2 separate regions of the Homo sapiens genome follow, and region 1 is linked to region 2. The links come from fine-mapping of genetic effects on gene expression. Tissue or cell type: whole blood. Region 2 holds a variant in brackets; the other region holds the start of a gene. All regions are shown on one strand. Distances are from middle to middle.

Region 1 (2,682 bases), 120 kb before region 2:
GGGGGAGGTCTCCAAACATCACAACTAAATCTGCGATTCCAAGGAAGAATTAAGAAGTCTTTTAGAAAACCACCACTGCCAAATCTTCCTTAATTGTTCCTTCAAGGAAGCTGGGGAACTTAGGTAACCAACCAGGCACCCAGCACAAACCGTGACTGAGATTTTAAAGTGAAAACTGAAAAAGTTTAAAAGAACACATAGATCTCTGGGGGGAGCACGGAGAAGACTAGGTCGCATTAAGGGCCTGGAAGGACCGGTGGCAAAAGGCAAAGGATGGAAGTGTGGCACTTCTGGATGGAGGCAGTGCAGGGTGGAGATTCAGAGCCATGGCCGAGCTTCCTTATGGAACCGGCGCCACCCCTCCAAGGCGGTCAGGTTTACTGGGCGCCCCGGAAACGGCACTCCCTGACTTGTGGCGTTGGCCCTGGAAATTCAGGTAGAAAGCAGCAAGCAGATGTTTTCACACACCCTGAAGTGTGCGCGATTGGCAGCGGCTGCCCAGAGAGGTTCCAAGAGAGTGGGAGCAATCCCCAAAGAACCCGGAGCAGGTTTGGTTGCCCGCCCCGCTGCCCTCCTCGCCCCTCCAGGAAGGCCTAGGGCAAAAGCGCGCTGGCTCGGGAGCCAAGCGCGAGGAGCTCTAAGCCAGTCTCAACCTCCTAGCTTGGACCTCGGTCTCCTCCTCCAGGCATTGGGTTTGCAGCGGGCAGGGGTGTGGGAACAATCTTGGAGGCCCACCCAAGCCCGGCCTCCCGGAGCCTCCCCCAGAGTTTGGGAACGTCCCAGTCTCGTTCCCTCTCGACGCCCCCGGAGTCAAGACGTGAAGGGAGTGCCAAGGCGGCCGGGGGCGGCGAGCGGGGCCGCGGGCGCGCACCGACTCAAGAGCCGACTGTCAGCCTCGGCGGGCCGGAGTTCTCCGGCGCTGGGACAGGGGCGCTGGGACAGGGGCGCTGGGGGCGAGCCCTGGCGGGGGCCAGGTCCGAGGACCCTGGGCGCGGCGGCCCCGCCAGGAGGTCCGGCCGCGAGCGTGACCTCACGGGGAGGGGCCAGCGCGGCGGCCTGGGCGCTGAGCCGAGCGCCGGGAGAGCAGCGCAGAAGCCGAGCCGCGAGGAGCGCACTCCGTGGCCCCGATGGAGCGGTACAAAGGTGAGGGCGCGGGTTCCTCGCGCGGCGCACACCCACTCCCTTTCGCCCAGCGACGCGGAGGGCAGGGCTAGGACTCGTCTTGCCAGGACTCGGGATAAGCAGAGCCCACTGCCCCCACCCAGCCCGGACCTGGGCCTAAGAGGGGGCGACAGCGGCGCCGCGGACTGGGCGGGTGGGCTCCTAGGTGGCTGCTGCGGCCCGAGCCCTTTGATCCTCCCGGGCGCGGAAGGAGGGGGTCGTCAGTGGGGGGCGTGGCGGGGCTTCTCACCTGTTGCAGGAGAGAGGGTGAGCCCGGCACCCCACTCCACCCTCAGTCCCGCCGCACAGGAAAGATGCCTGGGGCCGAGGAAGCCCCGAAGAAGGTGGGAACCGTGCTGAGCTGCTGGGGGCAAAGGGTCGGGCTGTTGAGTCCTTTCTCCCGGGCGCCCGCCGGGCTAGGGGCTTCCTGCTCCCGGCAAAGCGCTTGGGCAGTGGAGTGGGCGCGCAGACCCTCCCCGGGCTAGGTGGGGCCTCCCCAAACGTCCTGCCGTTCGGGTCATCGTTTCTCTCCAAGCCCTTCTTTGCTCCCCCACACCAAGAAAGGAGGGATGCGAGGGTCGGGGGCCGAATGGAGTGCCCGGCAGGTGGAGCTCCTGGAGGCGTCCGGACCCGAGGGCTTAGCTCAGTGCGCAGCTGGGCGAGCTTTGGGTTTGGCGGGGGCCAGGATCTCCGCCAAACCCCGGTGGGCGGGCCGTCCCGGGTGCGCCGGACGCCCAGCTTAGCACCCACACTCGGAGCCTCGGAGCTGGTCTACAAGTCTCGATTGCGGTTCTTTTGAAAAGGGAGTACAGGGAGTTGCCCCTTAAGAGGAACCCTGCGGGCGCTCCCCCCTCCCCCATCCTCCTGCAGACCCCTTCCCTTTGGAAAAGCCTCTTGCCTTCTCTTTTGCTGGACCGGTCTCCGCCAAACCTGCGGGAGGAAATGCTGCTTCTATATTTGTTTTCCCCTGGGAGAGAGTAATAAAAAGAGAACGCTCAGATTCCCAGGAATCTCACTCCCGGAGGGCTCTGATCCCTGAAACTGACATAAAGGGACCTGTTGGGACCGGCTTCCCTAAAGTAGTCTTGTCTTTCACTTTCCCATTGCTTTTTCTCATCTGGGTAGCCTGGTTACTGGTGAAGGCAAAAGATCCAAGTCCCAGACAGAGCTTCATATATTCAGGAAGGGTCTTTGCCGACAGCAGGGAGCCGGCGTGGGGGACAGGGTTAAAGGAGTTGGCCACCTTTGATTTCTTTCTGTGAACCCTCCCTGGAGCTTCTCTCGCATTTCTAACCCGGTGGTTTTCTTCTTCTCAAATTCTACTGGGATCACGTCAGTTTTGTGCTTGAATGACTGAATGCGCGCTTATGCTGTCTCAGACACTTGAGGAAGCCACAGTCCTGCTCCTTGTAACATGGCCGTTTGCACTCCCTCCCCTACTGGGGCCCCTCCGCCCTTCGGGAGGGACCCTCTCTGGGAATTCAGGCCTTGAGTTGAGCCTGACAGGAAGTGTTGGCCTCT
Region 2 (2,682 bases):
CCCAGGGTTACAGAAAACAAACAAGGTCTTCATGTGATCATGTATTCCAAGAGCTGGATAAGCAGCTGAGTGTGGTCACAACTGGGACTGGCATTTTCTTGTCCTTTTTGCTTACAAATATTAATCTCTTTCTTGATGGCCACATCATTGTAATTAAAATATAGACTTTTCAAAGGCAGAAAAGATTGAGGCTAAGTCTAGGCACTTCGCTGGGGCTGCTGTTGTATCAGCCAGAAGACTGTGGAAATAGCTGGGGGCTCACTGAGATCGACGACAGTGGCCTTTAACTGAGCATCTATTATGTGCCAGGGACTGTGCTAAGCACAATACACGCATGGTCCCATTTCATTGTCACAACCTTAGGTAGGAACTATAAAAACCCTATATGACAGATGAGGAAGCTGAAGCTCAATGAATAGAAGTCACATGCCCCAGGTCAGATCATTGGTAAGAGGCAAAGCTGGGACTGAAAGCCATTTCACTCTAGTTTCCAAACCGGAAGTCCTCAAACCCTAATTTCTGAGCAGAAACAGCTCCACTCTCAGATTCTCCTGTGCTTCAGAGGCCGTGGTGCTGGAACTGTAAACCTTGTGAACATACTGAAGGGATCACCTAACCCCAAATAGGGACACTCGCTACCCTGCCTGTGTGTCTAACTGCTCGCTACCCTGCCTGTGTGTCTAACTGCTCGCTACCCTGCCTGTGTGTCTAACTGCTCGCTACCCTGCCTGTGTGTCTAACTGCTCGCTGCCCTGCCTGCCTGTGTGTCTAACTGCTCGCTGCCCTGCCTGTGTGTCTAACTGCCGGCATTGCTTCCGGGAGACAGGCTACTCATCGGGAGTAACAAATCCACCCCAGGACTGACACCTACACATTGAAGGGCAATTTCAAGCTCCCAGGTCAGTGGGGTCACTAGCACCCCAAGTGAGGGATAGTGAGGGCACACTGGTGAACCATGCTGAATGATGCATAATGGCATCGATGATTCCTCACGTTAATTTGGGATTTTACAGCTGAGGGATTACTTCCATGGGCATTATCTACTGAATCTTCACTAGGACCTCATATACGATGACCCCCTTTCACATGGAGGAGGGAAATGGGCTTCCAGACATCGGACAAACCACTATGTTTTATAGAGGAGGAAATCACTCAGATATCTTGCCCTGAGTTTGGTGCTGGCTTTGAGGATGTCTGCAAAGCTGGTGCTCGGTGCCTGCCTCTCTGCCTCTCACCAATGCACACAACACTGGTTCAGGGGAGTAATCCCAAAGCCGCCACTCCATTCTTAATGAGCAAACACCATTGAGGGAGTCAAGAGCACACTCTCCTCTGCCCCCCAAGTGCCCCATCCCTCTGCCCTGGAGCCAGTCACAACCCCACCCTCTGTCCCAGGATTGTAAAAGCCACTTTACAAA[G/A]CAGCCTGGGCCCAGGGCCCTGAAAGAACCTGTAAATCCAAGAGACAGACCATACCTGGGCAGGTGGTCCTGTAGCAGGTGGCAGGGTGGGTTAGGAACACTCTCTTCCAGCTACAATCCAAGGAAACAGAATTATAGACAGATCAGAGGTGTAAGGGGAGGGCAGAAAACAGAAGATGATTTACAACACCAAAAGCTGATAGAAGATTCCAATGCAGAAGTAAGAAAGACTTCCTGGTTTTGTTTCTTGATTCTACCCTAACTTTTCTCTGCACATAGAGTAGGGAATGTTTCAAACTATCCAGTGACAATTAAAAAAAATAGGCTGGGAGTGGTGGCTCACGCCTGCAATCCCAACACTTTGGGAGGCCAAGGTAGGCAAATCACTTGAGGTCAGGAGTTTGAGACTAGCCTGGCCTACATGGTGAAGCCCCGTCTCTACTAAAAATACAAAAATTAGCTGGGCGTGGTGGCATGTGCCTGTAATCCCAGCTTAGCAGGCTGAGGCAGAAATGCTTGAACCCAGGAGGCAGAGGTTGCGGTGAGCCGAGATTGCACAACTGCACTCCAGCCTGGGTAACAGAGTAAGACTCCATCTCAAAAAAAAAAGGTAACATAAGCTGGCTATCACATTTGAAATTAGGGACATCCACATGCAAAACCCCAAACTGTAGCAACAGCTTTTTATTATAAGTTACTTTCTGAGGCTTACGATGCAGTAGGGAGAGAAATATTGGGAACTGGGCAACTGGATTTTGGCTGTGTGACCACAGACATGTTACTTTCCTCCTCTGGTCTTCACTTTCCTCTTTGTATAGTAATTCTATCTTCACTTTTCAACTGTATTCCTTAAAGCTTCGATGGGGAGAGAAGAGCACTGAAGGAGCAAGGCTCCAGGCCTCCCGCAGTGCCCCAGCCCCGCCCCTCCACCCCAGGTGTGCTGCTACTATCTGGTCCACACAACAAGTGTCCACACGAGGCTCTGCAGGTCAAGACATGTAAGCCACTGGACTCAATGACTTCTCAGGTCTGCTGGAGAACTAACGTTCTGTGATAACACAGCAGCCACCATTCCTTGGGTGGCTTCCACCTGCTGGTGTTCCATGAACCACAGCTACCTGAAGAGATGGTTCCCTCCATGTTCCAGATAGGGAAATGGGTTCTGAGGGCTCACTTAGGGCCCCTGAGGTCACATAATTACCGGAACACAGCAGAGCTGGGATCCAAACCCTGACCATGACTCCAAATCCCCCCACTCTACCCT

What was found. PIP is the estimated chance that this variant, and not a neighbour inherited with it, causes the effect.
Region 1: it holds the start of AFAP1L2, and the variant in region 2 is fine-mapped to the expression of AFAP1L2 in whole blood (TOPMed, PIP 0.96).

What each region holds. Positions count from the first base shown.
Region 1 is chr10:114,402,901-114,405,582 of GRCh38, reverse strand. It overlaps AFAP1L2 (actin filament associated protein 1 like 2), which reads left to right and starts at 1,081. Exons shown (of 19, transcript NM_001001936.3): 1 at 1,081-1,143. The coding sequence starts at 1,128. RefSeq lists an enhancer at 546-1,046 and silencers at 1,000-1,079, 1,877-1,926.
Region 2 is chr10:114,281,363-114,284,044 of GRCh38, reverse strand. VWA2 (von Willebrand factor A domain containing 2) reads right to left here. Exons shown (of 14, transcript NM_001272046.2): 9 at 1,474-1,529. It also overlaps a transcript of AFAP1L2 not described here. Among named protein-coding and RNA genes, the nearest start is that of VWA2, 43 kb to the right of the region's middle. The variant G/A (reference allele first, on the strand shown) is at 1,419.